4 linked regions of the Homo sapiens genome follow. The protein of the gene in region 3 purifies or fractionates together with the protein of the main gene of each other region. This does not show direct contact. Each region holds a gene or a part of one and is shown on either strand. Other genes may lie near its edges.

Region 1 (3,916 bases), on a different chromosome or scaffold from region 3:
AATGTGTACTCTTTGCCAGTCACTGTTACATAATATAATGACTATACCCGATAAAACATGGTACCTAGTCTAGAGCTTGTGTGGTCTGAATTAAAAACAAGTAAGGGAAAAAAGAAAACTCTAACACACATCCCCCTTTATATAATTTTTGTTTTCACCCAAATGAATTGAAATCATAGATGGAACAGTTTTTCAGAACTTTAGCTACTCAAAACTAATGAAAGAGGAGCTTACCAGATGTCAAGTTCATAATTTCACTAAATTTCTTTTAAGTTTTAGCTAATGTAGAATGTATTGGTGTATTCTTTATGGTATAGTGCTTTGACTACCCAATTTAGTTTTTTTTTTTTTTTTTTTTGACAGAGTCTTGCTCTGTTGCCCTGGCTGCAGTGCTGTGGCATGATCTCAGCTCACTGCAACCTCCGCCTCCTGGGTTCAAGGAATTTGCTGGAATTACAGGTACCTGCCACCATGCTTGGCTAATTTTGGTATTTTTAGTAGAGACGGGGTTTCACCATGTTGGCCAGGGTGGTCTCGAACTCCTGACCTCAGGTGATCCGCCCGCCTCGGCCTCCCAAAGTGCTGGGATTACAGGTGTGAGTCACTGCTCCGGGTCATGAATTTAGTTATATGTTAAAAGTTGGGTGAAGAAAGAGTTGGGTGGGGAAAGAAGAGAAGCTTAAGGGAAGAAAGTTATGCTGCTTTGCAAATCACGTATCTGTATTCTTTACACACACACACACACACACACACACACAACATTATAAGTATTTACTTACATTCACTGTTCAACTGGGATGGTTAGAAAGCTTTACATTCTGGCCAGGTGCAGTGGCTCACACCTGTAATCCTAGCACTTTGGGAGGCCGAGGCAGGCAGATCACCTGAGGTCAGGTGTTCGAGACCAACCTGGCCAACATGGTGAAATCTTGTCTAACTAAAAATACAAAAATTAGCTGGGTGTGGTGGCACATGCCTGTAATCCCAGGTATTTGGGAGGCTGAGGCAGGATAATCGTTTGAACCCGGGAGACAGAGGTTGCAGTGAGCCAAGATCTTGCCACTGCACTCTAGCCTGGATGACAGAGAAAGATTCCGTCTCAAAAAAAAAAAAAAGAAAAGAAAAGCTTCACATTCTTTCTTAAAATGCTGTAGCAATATGTCAGCCTGTTTCTTTCAGAAGCCTTTTGTTAAAGGTTGAAGACGATTAAAAAGAACAGAACAAAATCAGATTATGTATTTTGATAGATGTGAACATATAAAAATTTTCTGAGCTTTTTTCCAAAAATTTTTGATGGCTGATGTTCATTTCCCTATTATATTTACAAGTAGTACATATTTCAAAAAGGTTGGATGAAAATTACCAATACTATAAAAAGAAGAGATACCCCAAAATGCTAGTGTTTGACAGTAGCCAGTGGGAAAACAAAAAACAAAAAAAGCCATCTTCATGAAGGAAAGTAGAACTTTACCTGTTGTCACCTCAGAATTAGGCATTGCGAAAAGTATGATTTTATGATCTCAAAGTATGTTTACTATGCATTATTTCTAGATAATTTTCCTGTCCTGTAAGCTCTGGGTCTTGACTTAATGAAATGTTTTCTGCTTAGACTAGCTGAAGTGAAACCTTTAAATTCTTATCCACTTTCCCTTCCTGATTTGGCTGTTTATACCTGTAAGAGTATCCATTTTTGCTGGGTTTCATGTTTAACATTGAAGGGTTTGGACTTTCATGCTCTGTAAGGCTGAATTAAAGCCATCCTTTTTGGTACTGCTACATTAGCATTTTTTCTCAAACTCAGCTGCCATTTACCTGAAGAACATGGTGACACAATACTGGCCAGATCGAGAACCTCCACCAGGAGAAGCAATATTTCCATTCAACATTCACGAAAACGATCGCCAGCAAATACGTGATAACATTGTGGAAGGAATAATTCGGTCTCCAGATTTAGTGAGGTATGTGGTGCTATATATTTGTGATTACTAGAAAGCATGAAATGGTTAGATCTGAGGGTGGGTGCTGTTGGATCTAATCCTTGGCCTCATGTTTCATTTTCTAAAGAGGTAAAGTAATAAAGAGGGACACTCAAAGAATATTATTTTACTTAGTGGTCTTTGCATTTGTAATTCTTTGCCTCAAGATATTTTGGAAAAGATTTTGTTGTCGTATGTTGCCACAAAAAGAGGTAAGATTTAAAAAAAATGATACTTAACCAAAACAATTGTGTAAGTCTTGCTACTTAAATGACCTTTATTCTTAGTAATGATCTCTTGAGTTTTTTTACTACCTGCTTTTCTTTTCTTTGATACAGAGAGACTGATTCTGGGAATTTTTACCTACTACCTGTCTTAATCTTTCCCTGTATTTTTATTCACATTTATGAATTGAGCATGTTTTCCTTCAGAGAAGACAGGATAGAGTAGGTATAAACTAGAAGAACTGTCTCCAGTTTTTTACAGTCATAGATTAGATGCTGTAGAGCAGTAGTGTCCCTCAGAACTTTCTGCAGTGACAGTGTTCTGTGTCAGTGCTATCTAATATTAGCCACAAGGCATCAATGACTGTTGAGCACTTGAAATGTTGCTAGTTGTAACTGAGGAACTGAATTTTTAATTCTATTTACTTTTGATTCATTTAAAGTGTGCATATTTAACTAGCAGCTGCTCTATTGGACAGAGCAGCTGTAAAGTCATAAAAATTTTGCAATCTTAAAATAGGAGAAACAAATTCTTTTCAACATACAAGATAGTAATTAGGTATCTTTTGAAAATGGGAGGGACAAATAGGTGAAAACAGAGGTAGAGGAATGAAATTTTTTAATATCAAGAGGTTGAATATAACGTTAGCCCTTAGTATCTAATAGCCATCATGACATAAGCAGTGGAAAAGGAAGGAAGTACGACGGGTAACAGGAAGGAGAACAAACATTGAACTCTTAGAGCAATTAATTTGTTAAGAGGAGAAAATAGGTGTACTGGTTAAAAAGAAAAAATCACTATTATTCTTATTGGTTGCCCAAATGCCAGTCATGGGACTGATACCCCTGTGGTACCATCATGTATCCATTTATTTTCAAAATCTTAAATTTTCAGATCTCCCTTAATCTTCGAGTGGTTCTACACAGTAATGCATGAAGGATGGCCTTTCATAACCATCCTTTGCTTGGAATGAGAAAGGACTGGGAGAATCAACCTGAAGATGAAATTTTAAAAAATGAAAAGCTTCAGTTTTATTTTTTACAAATATGACATTTATTGTTTAAAGGAGCAGCTACTACTGGCACTAAAGGAGATCTTTTATCTTTATTACGGGACGGTTCTCTGTGGCTTTGCTCCTTTTATGTCCTTAAGGCTTAATTATAATCATTGTTGAAATTTCTTCCACCTATTCTCAAAGTTTAAGAGTATTACAAAGGGATTTTTCAAATAGATTTGATAACGTGAAGAAAAGGCATCATTTTGTTTAATTTTACCAGTTTAAGTGAATCTGAGTTACTGGTTGTTCAACTGAAAATGCTTTATTTTTTTTTTAGTTGCCCTGTGGAATCCTAATTTTGCCAAGTTTGTTTTCTAACCATTTGAAAATGTCATGTAAGGTCATATTTGGTGATAACATTGAATTGATAGTTTATAGAAAAGAAATTTTTCCCCCTATTTTCTTTTCAGTTCCAGTTAAAGTTGAAATCTCATTGAGGAAATGATTACTTATCTATGTTATCAGATAACTTATTTTAGCATTTAACTTTGTGGTTTTATTAAAGGAATATTTTCTTTTTCTGTTTTATGTCTCTTCTGTTGCCTTTTTCATTTATTTCTTTGGAAATAGCTCTTAGCTCTCCTCTTCAGGAATTGCCTCGCTAATAATACATGTTTCTTTCTTATACTTGGGGTACAAAAATTAGTATCTCAGACTG
Region 2 (3,916 bases), on a different chromosome or scaffold from region 3:
CAGCCAGGCTGGAGTGCAGTGGTGGTGCAATCTTGCTCAATTCAGCCTCGACATCCCAGGCTCAGGTGATGCTCTCATCTTAGCCTTCCAAGTGGCTGGGACCACAGGCATGCACCACCACACCCAGCTAATTTTTGTATTTTTTGTAAGGACAGGGTTTTGTCATGTTGCCCAGGCTGGTCTTGAGTTTTTGGGCTAAAGGAATCCACCTGCCTCGGCTTCCCAAGGTGCTGGGACTACAGTTGTGAGCCATAGCACCTGGCCCTAAAGCTGTTATTTTAAAAATACATGTCTCCTCTTTATAGTATGTTACACTTGTATTTAATAATGTAATTACTAATTCCTAATTAAATATGGAGACTAAAAAAATAATGGTGTGTGGAATCTTGTCCTTTTTCCTGATATGTCTATGCTCCCCTCCTTTTTCCTAATAACTTGTATGGGTGAGATATATGTAAAAGAAAAATCCAAGTAATCATTGTTCTCAGAATTAAGATGGTCTGTCCATGACTTCAGCAATGACAAGTCCAACACTTAACTTGGGTAAAGATTTAGGGTTGACAATATGATTTACATTTTGTTTATCAATTTACCCAGTTACATTTCTACTTTTGAAATATAGCCAGTGGATCAATGTATTTATATCTATTTGATTTTTATTTACTTTGAATCTACCTTTTGCTTCAGATAAAAAACCTGTCATTCACTAACTCCAATGCTTCAGTTTCAGTATGACAAAAGAAGTGTGACTTCCATTTTACTCTGATGCTATATAACTGATTTCTAACCTTTCAGCCTGCCTAGGGTAGTTAAAAGACGAGTGAATGCTCTCAAAAACCTGCAAGTTAAATGTGCACAGATAGAAGCCAAATTCTATGAGGAAGTTCACGATCTTGAAAGGAAGTATGCTGTTCTCTATCAGCCTCTATTTGATAAGGTAATGCTTTCTCCTACTTTGTTTAATTTAACATTCTAGAAGACGAATTCTAGAAACATAAGCAGACTTGGAAGAGGTTAATCTTTAGAACTCTCATTGAAATTGTTATTAGAGGCAGCACTTGGAGGAACTATCAATAATAGCAGTTAAAGTTGTGGTATGCATTTGTTAAATTTGTAAGACTTCTTAGTGAGAAACCACTGGTTTTAGCTTGGATGCCAGTGTTTTTATACAGCCTTTTTTTTTTAAATCATTTTAGCGATTTGAAATTATTAATGCAATTTATGAACCTACGGAAGAAGAATGTGAATGGAAACCAGATGAAGAAGATGAGATTTCGGTTAGTACCAACTTTATTTTGGTATGTTTTTAAGATGATAAAATCTTAGGACTTGTCAGAAATGTTAGCATTTAATGATGGAGTACAATATTATATAACCAGTTGTATTTTTTCATTTTTTAATTTTACGTCTTTATTACACGTTTTTCTATTACTTTATTTTTAAAAAACAGTCATTCAAGATTGTAATTTGCATGGCAATAAGCAGCGGTTTCATGGGTTCTAAGTTTCTTAAGTGTCCACAGCAGTTTAAAACACCACAAGTCTTATTTCCAATTTGCAGCACCTGACTTAAAGTTCGAATTCATCTGATGGAGCATTAAAACTGTCATTTTCTCTTGTGAAAAGACATAATTGCTATTTCCAGGACTGTATATTGAACATGGTTGTACATTATTTTTAATTGGTTAGTAGAATTTTACTCATGTAATTTATATCCAGAATAAGAACCTCTAGCATCTCTGAATGGCCTTCCTCTCAGAACGATGATGATTAAATGTCTAAAATGTATCTGGGGTGCCCCCACTTGACATTACCAAACATGTTTCCAAATAATCTTAGAAAATATGATTCTTTAAACATATGCATACCACATCTTTAAACATAAACATACCACACAGTGCACCATCACTTCCTTAACCATTTTCCAATTGTTCACTTATAACATTTGCAATTTTTTATTATAAATCATATTGTGATGAATACTTTCATCCATAAGTTTTATTGCAAGGCTTATTGTTTCTTCTAATGTCTTCTAATTTCAAAGAAGTGGCTTACTGGTTCAAACAGTGCACATACGTGGTTTTAAGGCTTTTAGTATACTTTACCAAATAATCTCCAGAATAGCTCCAACAACTCCTACCAACAGTATGTTATTGTGCCCATAGGGTGGACTTGATAACAGCAAAGCAAATTCAACCACAGATATATTAGATTCTCACCCATCTCAAAACTATCACATCAGAGAAGCAAGGAGACATATTATTGGTGAGGAAGCCAAATTCAAATTCTTTTAAAAAATCACTCAGCTTTAGATCAGTAAAATAATCAACAAAAATGGTCACCGCAAAGTCTACCGGGTTTTTCAAAAAATAAAAAGAGAGAAAGAGAAAGGCCAGGCGCAGTGGCTCATGCCTGTAATCCCAGCACTTTGGGAGGCCTAGGTGGGCCAATCACTAGGTCAGGAGTTCGAGACCAGCCTGGCCAACATGGTGAAATCCCATCTCTACTAAAAATACAAAATATTAGCTGGGTGTGGAGGCGGGTGCCTCTAATCCCACCTACTCGGGAGGCTCAGGCAGGAGAATCACTTGAACTCGGGAAGTCGAGGTTGCAGTGAGCCGAGATCGCACCACTGCGCTCCAGCCCAGGCGACAGTGTGAGACTCCGTCTCAAAAAAAAAAAAAAAAAGTACCAAATAACCAAAATTTTTTATTTGACTAAATTCTGTTCATGTATGAGCATGACAGTCTCTCCTGTTTATTTGACTTTGGCAATAAAAAAATAAGCAGCCTTGTACAGAACAGGGAAAATGCCAAGAACGAAGGCAGTCTACAGTTTTACTGTAGAATACATATATATATATATATATATATATATATATGTAGGCCTCTCTCCCTTTGGCCATATCTACTGTCAGTTCAGGCCATTAACTACAGACAAATTTTCAAATTCACTTCTTCTCCAAGATCTTCGATGCTGTCATCATCTACTTCTGTCTGTTTTTCCTGAATGACCTCAATTATGTCATCTGTAAAGTCTCCTTGAATGATAATTTCATCCTCCTCTGTTACTGAGGCACCACAGGAGAATTTTTGAGCAAAAAATCTTTGTGTGATTTAAGATCAATTTCAAAAGTTACAAGGCCACAACCCTTGTCACATATTTCTTTGCTCTGGGAATTTTGGCTATAGTAACCTTTTGTGGTACCGTCTTTGTTTTTTTGTTTTATTTGACCCCTTCCACCTCTCTTCTGTTTTTTCTTCTCCTCTTCTTCCCCTGCTGTTCCTTGACCTTGACAGATTCCAGCTTCTTGTTTGGGTGAATTTTCCACAGTAAGTTTTGCATATTCATTTGGAAAATTCTTCTCTAATCATTGTCTACATTTAGCAACATCAGGCATATATTCACAGTACTCTATTGGTAATGAACAGACTCCACAATAAAGGACTCAAAGTAGGTAATCAGCATCTAACTTGGCTCTGTTCCTTGGGTCTCCTTTGCAGTCAGCCCTATTGGAATCGGAAACGTCAGCAGCCATTTCACAAACCCAGGCAGTTGCACAGGCCCCGCCAGCTCTGCTCCCGCCACTGTTGCCAGCTGAGCCGACAAATGCAACTCGTTTCCCCGGCCAGGGCCTCCCTAGAGCATCAGTTGTATTTTTATACCTAGGAAATATTTTTCCTTTTTGTAAGAATGATAATGCAGATGAACTGTTATTCAACCTGGCACCACCATCTGTACTCAAAAAGTCATTATTTCCTTACATTTTATAGTTTTTTTGTTTAAGAGACAGGGACTTGCTGTGTTGCCCAGGCTGGAGTACACTGGCATGATCTTGGCTCACTGCAGCTCATTCCTGGGCCCAAGCTATTCTCCCACCTCAGCCTCCCAAGTTGCTAGGACTATCTGAAGCTACT
Region 3 (2,982 bases):
GAGAGCGTGTGCATTGCCCGGGTGCTGTGCAGGCCTGCCTCACCCCGAGTCCTGGCCCCCCATGGGGAACTCCTTCCCTGCAACAGCCTCCCAACTCCCTACTTTCTGTCTCTTCCATTTTTGGCTAATTGACAACTCTTTCTCCCACTCTTTCTTCCTCTCCTCCCCTCTCCAAAGTTGAGCGTCGCAGGCGATTCAACATTAACGACAGGATCAAGGAACTGGGCACTCTCATCCCTAAGTCCAGTGACCCGTGAGTCTGGGCTGGGACCCTCAGGCCAGCGGGAGGTGGGGCAGGCGTCCCATGCTACTAAAATTGTGCCTTGGTGGGCTCACCAGGCAGTCTCGGCCCAGGCATTTCTCCTCTGTCTGGTTCTTTCTCAGCCTGAGCAGGGTTGCAGACCCTCACTATGTCAGCACCTAAAATTTTAGGCACATAATGTTATGGTCTGTGTGCCCCATCTGGTCCCCGTAGGATATATGCACCTACTTTTCTGTTCACTTAGTACTTCCTTTTTTTTTTTCTTTTTTTTGAGATGGAGTCTCACGCTGTCACCCAGGCTGGAGTGCAGTGGTGCAATGGTACTTCCTTTATTTATTCAAGATTTATTTATTGGCCGGGTGTGGTGGCTCATGCCTGTAATCCCAGCACTTTGGGAGGCCAAGGCGGGGTCGATCACCTAAGGTCAGGAGTTTCAGACTAGCCTGGCCAACATGATGAAACCCCGTCTCTACTAAAAAATACAAAAATTAGCCAGGTGCAGTGGCTCACACTTGTAATCCTGGCACTTTGGGAGGCCAAGGCAGGCGGATCACGAGGTCAGGAGGTGAAGGCCAACATGGTGAAACCCTGTCTCCACTAAAAATAAAAAAAATTTAGCTGGGCGTGGTGGCACGCACCTGTAATCCCCGCTACTCGGGATGCTGAGGCAGGAGAATCACTTGAACCCGGGAGGTGGAGGTTGCAGTGAGCCAATATGGTGCCACTGCACTCCAGCCTGGGTGACAGAGCAAGACTTTGTCTCAAAAACAAAAAAAAAAAAAGATGGCCGGGTGCAGTGGCTCACGCCTGTAATCCCAGCACTTTGGGAGGCCGAGGCGGGTGGATCACAAGGTCAGGAGATTGAGACCATTCTGGCCAACATGGTGAAACCCCATTTCTATTAAAAATATAAAAATTAGCGGGGCGTGGTGGTGGGCACCTGTAATCCCAGCACTTGGGGAGGCCGAGACGGGTGGATCACCTGAGGTCAGGAGTTTGAGACCAGCCTGGCCAACATGGTGAAACCCCATCTCTACAAAAAATACAAAAAAAATTAGCTGGGCGTGGTGGCGTAGGCCTGTCATCTCAGCTACTCAGAAGGCTGAGGCAGGAGAATCGCTTGAACCTGAGAAGTGGAGGTTGTAGTGAGCCAAGATTGTGCCACTGCTCTCCAGCCTGGGTGACAGAGCGAGACTCCATCCCCCACCGCCCCGCAAAAAAAAAGGAAAAGAGAAAGATTTATTTTTTGAACCTCTGGTTTGTGCCAGGTACCATATTAGGCCCTAAAGATACCAGAGGGAACAAAACAGACCTCATGAAACTGATGTTTTAGTGGGGGCAGACAAATAGTAAATAAGTAAACATCCATGAGATCCATTATGATGAGTGTTATGAGAAGAATAAAGACTGGAAGGAAAATGGGAGAATGTTGGGGAGGGTTAGTTTGGGATAAGGAAGGTGAGGACAGGGCAGGCCCCAACTGACAAGGAAACGTTTGAATAAAGAGCCTAAGGAGGCAAGGCGGGGAGCCGCATGGGTGTCTGGGGGTAAGAGTATTCAAGGCAGAGGGCACGGCTGGGATTGATGCCCTGAGATGGGAGTGGTTTTCCATATTCTAGGAGCACTGAGAGACCAATGTGGCTGTAGTGAGATCAATCGGAGGGACATAGGGAAGAGAGGAATCCTAAGGGGTCAGGTCAGAGACGGCTTCCAGGGTTTGGAGTGTGATGGGGCACCATTGTAAGATTCCAGGCGGGAAGTTTTCCTCTGGATACTCCATACCTTTGAAAGACCCCAGCCTCAAGTTCTAAGCATGTGGTGGGAGGCTCCCACCTGGTGCAATCCCCGCCTCAGCTCCTGAGAAACTCCTCATGTGGCATTTCCTGCTTGCCTCCCACTTGGGCCCCACAGGGAGATGCGCTGGAACAAGGGCACCATCCTGAAGGCCTCTGTGGATTATATCCGCAAGCTGCAGAAGGAGCAGCAGCGCTCCAAAGACCTGGAGAGCCGGCAGCGATCCCTGGAGCAGGCCAACCGCAGCCTGCAGCTCCGAATTCAGGTTTGAAAAGAGGAGATGGTGGTGGGGGAAGAGGGGGAGAGCTTCCTGCAGGTGGAGGCAGAGAGAGAGCAGGCCAGGGTTTCCCTTCCTGGCATACTTGGGGGATCCCTGGGCTTCCCAGATCACACGATGATGATAGTGATAATGATAAATAATAATCATAATATTAACAAGGATAATAATATTGCTAATGTACATAGCATTTATCTTGTGCTCTGTACTGTGACAAGAGCTTTATATCCACTAACTTATTCAATCCTCAGAATTCTATGAGATAGGGGCCATTATTTTATTTATTTATTTATTTATTTTTGAGATGGAGTTTCGCTCGTTGCCCAGGCTGGAGTGCAATGGCGCAATCTCGGCTCACCGCAACCTCCGCCTCCCGGGTTCAAGCAATTCTCCTGTCTCAGCCTCCTGAGTAGCTAGGATTATAGGCATGCACCACCACACCCAGCTAATTTTTGTATTTTTAGTAGAGATGGGGTTTCTCCATGTTGGTCAAGCTGGTCTCGAACTCCTGACCTCAGGTGATCCACCTGCCTCGGCCTCCCAAAGTGATTACAGGCGTGAGCCACCGCGCCCAGCCTAGGGGCCATTATTATATACCCACTTTACAGTTTGCGACTCTGAAGCTTCAGAGATGTTAAGCACCTTGCCT
Region 4 (3,916 bases), on a different chromosome or scaffold from region 3:
TCAGCCTCCTGAGTAGCTGGGACTACAGGTGCCCGCCACCACGCCCGGCTAATTTTTTTGTATTTTTAGTAGAGACGGGGTTTCACCGTGTTAGCCAGGATGGTCTTGATCTCCTGACCTCGTGATCCGCCCGCCTCAGCCTCCCAAAGTGCTGGGATTACAGGCGTGAGCCACCGCGCCCGGCCTGTTTGCTCTTCTTATCTCATTAAAGCCAGCCTGGCTTTCGTCTCACTGTCTCTTAGCTTCTGAAAGGTCTAATTCACTGGCACTGAAGAGTGAGGGCAGGACCCGTTAAACTGGTGCAAACGACACTTCTGATCCTGTCCTTTCTGGGTTCGTTTCTGCACCACACAGACACTTTTCTCTGTAGGCCATGGAAGAGCTGGTGGATGAAGGGCTGGTGAAAGCTATTGGCATCTCCAACTTCAACCATCTCCAGGTGGAGATGATCTTAAACAAACCTGGCTTGAAGTATAAGCCTGCAGTTAACCAGGTAAACATCCCCCAACGACACTGGCATTGCAACGTTGCTGTTTTACTGTCTGATGCTGGTAGGGATTTCTCGTCCACCTCACCCAGCAAGTGGCCAGGAGGCAGCTCCTGGGTGTTGGCAGAGTCCTGAGTTATGATTCAGCATGACACAGCACATCTGGGAGAGGAAACTTACAGGAAAGAAAGAGTTTGAGCCTGGCTTGTGACGATTTGGGGTCTGACAAAGAGGCAGCCATGAGATCCTCAGAACTGTGATAGTTGATAAGTGGCTAAAGCCAAGAAAAGCCTCTAGGGCCCATGAGAACATCTATAATAAGATAATAATAACACCAAGGATACTACCTGGGAACTGTAGGAAGTTACAGCTTATCTGGGAAATAGGGTGTTTGTTATACATAGTTTTCTGTATGGGGTAGGGAGGGACTTTAGCATAGGAAGCTTCATCTGTGTCCCATCAGCGTGTAGCCACAGTGCTCCCATCAGCTCTTGTTTTTGCATTTGCAGATTGAGTGCCACCCATATCTCACTCAGGAGAAGTTAATCCAGTACTGCCAGTCCAAAGGCATCGTGGTGACCGCCTACAGCCCCCTCGGCTCTCCTGACAGGCCCTGGTGAGCTTCCCACAGGCTCATGCTCCTGTGTCACTTGGTGAAGATTAGAAAAGACTAAAAAGAACAATTCAGCCTCAAGGAAGATGTTTCTGGGGGTGATCTGCAAAACTTCCCCTGAGCCTCTTGCTGGTTTTCCTGGAAGGGTTGGAGTTTCTAGTAGCAAGACACCTACTCTTTTTCCAAAGGGTTGGGGGTTCTTAACCCAGCTCTGAGGAGGAGACTGGTGGCTGCCCTCTGAGGTCGATGGGAGGATTAGGGTTGGGGTTTCTGGCTGCTGTGAGTGGTGGCCATGATGGTGTGACCTGGACTGTCTTTCTATCCTCAGGGCCAAGCCCGAGGACCCTTCTCTCCTGGAGGATCCCAGGATCAAGGCGATCGCAGCCAAGCACAATAAAACTACAGCCCAGGTACAGCCACTTCAGGTGTTGCTGACCGTCCACAACTGCCTGCATTCCTGACAGTCCTGTTAGCCAAGAGGAGGAAGTGACTGAGCCTGTTACACCCTCACAGGAAGTATGGTTAGGGGTCCTCAAGTACAGAGTGGAAAGGGCACAGATCGGGGTTTTAGAAGACTCTGGCATGGGCTCTTAGATTAATAGTGCCTGCCCCCACTACTGCAAGGGTGACTGCCACGAGGGCCAGCGCTTGTTCATTCATGTGGAACCTCATCTGTACAAATGTAAGAGCTCTTAGCCGTGCAGGGAATGTTCTTTCTCCTGAGTGGTAGTGTGCATTTCTAGCCAGTGGAGGGCCTCATGTGGTCTCATGATATGCCTGAGACACTGAAGCGTGTGGCACAGTGGCTAGCGCAGGACTCTGGAGTCAGATCTGGACCTGAATGCGTCGCCTACCTGTTGCTAGCTGTGACCTGACATCTTGGAGCCCCTCTCTGATCACCTGTGGAGTTCTAGCACGTCCTTCTGCAGGTTGTGTGTGTGAGAGACTGAGATGATGGGTGCGAGTGCCTGGCATGTATACACACTCACTGTCTCCTTGGGCTCACAGGTCCTGATCCGGTTCCCCATGCAGAGGAACTTGGTGGTGATCCCCAAGTCTGTGACACCAGAACGCATTGCTGAGAACTTTAAGGTAAGATCTTGGCTGGTCAGGCCTGGCCCTCCTCCATGGAGTGGGGGATGGGGGAGGCCTCTCATCCTGTCTCTGGAGTGTCATCTGTGGGATCACCACCATCCTCTCTTCTGAGGCCAGGGAGCTGTGGCGAGCAAGCCAAGACTGAGACTGACACCTCACCAGTGGAGCCGTGTGCAGGGGCAGGCCTTGGGCCTCCAGGGCCCCGTGCTGTGCACGCATACACCTACACCTTTGCTCAGGCCCTTCAGCCACACCGAGAGGTTACCCGGGGAGAATCTCGCTCTTGAGCTTCACTGCCTGGACCTGCCCTGCACTGGAGCTCTGTCAGCTACCAGCTGCATAACCCTGGGCAAGTCGCTTAACTGCTCGATGCCTCAGCTTCCCTATCTATAAAATAATATCCATTTTGAGGGTTGTTACGAAGATTAAGTGATGCATCAGAGCACTTCACATGGTGCTTAATACCTTAGTAAGTGATCGAGAAATGTTGCTGTGCTGATAAGTCCAGGGACTGCAAAGGACCCTCTGGGCCATTTAGTCCATTCACCAGCTCTGCAAGGAGTTCGTGTGATGATGGGCAGAGCCTAGACCTGTGTCAGGACTCTGGCGAAGCGCTCAGTGTGGCAGCTGGAGCAGCTCAGGCTACTTGGCGCCACCTCCCTCCCTGCCTGCCCTTGCAGCATTGGTGGCGGGGGTGTGGGGGAGGGGGGGGGCACGCCCAAAGGAGAGCAGCTCAGGGGAGTCCTGATGGCCCAAGAGCCTCTGTTCTCACTGAGCAAAGTGGCTCTGCCAGGGATGCTCTGTCTTTATCCAAGATCTGTGCCGAGCGCAGCACAGCCATGGGCCTGGGGCTCTTGGGCAGGCCCCAGCTTAGGTGAGCAGCTGATTTTGCCCAATTCCACTGCCCAAAGACTGTGGCCATAGTGCCTGCCACCTGTCACATATGAGACAGGGATGAGAGTGATCCCTGAAGAGGGAAGTGGAGCTCATTGTTTAGGAGAGGAGACGTTTTTCTTCTTACGTGCAGGTAGATGTTCTAAGTACACAAGATAAAATGGCAAAACAGTGGCCACTGAGGGAAAGGCATATCCCACCAGAGATGCATCGTTTGTTTCGTATTTCATTTTTTAAGGAATTAGGAAAGAAAAAATAAATGACTAATCTCAAAATGCTAACCTAATTATTTTATTTTTGCATCTTACTGTATAGCTTTTGCACATTTTTCTGTGATCATAACCACAGAGCCTGTAGCAGACTCTCTTTCTGCACATTCTGTGATCATCTGAAGCTAAGAGCCCTTCGGCTCTGGGAGTGTGTGTCAGCCTCTTGTGGGTCTCACCCAGTGGTGCCTGCCTGCCTCCCTCCCTCCCAGCCTCCATGCCAGCTGAGTTCTGTACCGTCTGCTGCCTTCATGCAGGTGGTTCTCTTCTCCCAGTATACCTTTCTTGCCCTCTCTGTCAAAATCTTATACTTCTTAGGCCATGTCAAATACCATCTCCTCTTCGGCTGTGGTTGTTCAGTTTCCCGGCTGGAATCCCTTTGGAATACCTCTGCCCTTCCTGTGCTGTTGAGTGTCTTATACAGTGTGTGATTAGTTATTTGTATTACAGTTGTAGAAATACCTCTGCCCTTTGTTTGCTTCATAAAATAGAGGCAAAGACACATCTTACCCATAATTATATTCCTCACTGCAACTTATCACAATAGAAGTGCTCAGTAGT

Evidence for each region. The genes of interacting proteins can lie anywhere in the genome.
Region 1: the proteins of TFE3 (region 3) and IPO8 purify together in Homo sapiens (co-immunoprecipitation; one study listed by IntAct). This does not show direct contact.
Region 2: the proteins of TFE3 (region 3) and NAP1L1 purify together in Homo sapiens (co-immunoprecipitation; one large-scale study listed by IntAct). This does not show direct contact.
Region 4: the proteins of TFE3 (region 3) and AKR1B1 purify together in Homo sapiens (affinity purification with mass spectrometry; one large-scale study listed by BioGRID and IntAct). This does not show direct contact.

What each region holds. Positions count from the first base shown.
Region 1 is NC_000012.12:30,682,343-30,686,258, reverse strand, and holds part of IPO8 (importin-8), read left to right. Parts: intron 1-368; exon of another isoform or gene 369-459; intron 460-1,801; coding exon 1,802-1,958; intron 1,959-3,916. UniProt on the Homo sapiens protein: Involved in nuclear protein import, either by acting as autonomous nuclear transport receptor or as an adapter-like protein in association with the importin-beta subunit KPNB1.
Region 2 is NC_000012.12:76,057,159-76,061,074, reverse strand, and holds part of NAP1L1 (nucleosome assembly protein 1-like 1), read left to right. Parts: intron 1-795; coding exon 796-937; intron 938-1,196; coding exon 1,197-1,277; intron 1,278-3,916. UniProt on the Homo sapiens protein: Histone chaperone that plays a role in the nuclear import of H2A-H2B and nucleosome assembly.
Region 3 is NC_000023.11:49,030,736-49,033,717, reverse strand, and holds part of TFE3 (transcription factor E3), read left to right. Parts: intron 1-177; coding exon 178-253; intron 254-536; coding exon of another isoform or gene 537-582; intron 583-2,173; coding exon 2,174-2,321; intron 2,322-2,982. UniProt on the Homo sapiens protein: Transcription factor that acts as a master regulator of lysosomal biogenesis and immune response.
Region 4 is NC_000007.14:134,445,574-134,449,489, reverse strand, and holds part of AKR1B1 (aldo-keto reductase family 1 member B1), read left to right. Parts: intron 1-370; coding exon 371-493; intron 494-996; coding exon 997-1,103; intron 1,104-1,428; coding exon 1,429-1,510; exon of another isoform or gene 1,511-2,108; coding exon 2,109-2,192; intron 2,193-3,916. UniProt on the Homo sapiens protein: Catalyzes the NADPH-dependent reduction of a wide variety of carbonyl-containing compounds to their corresponding alcohols.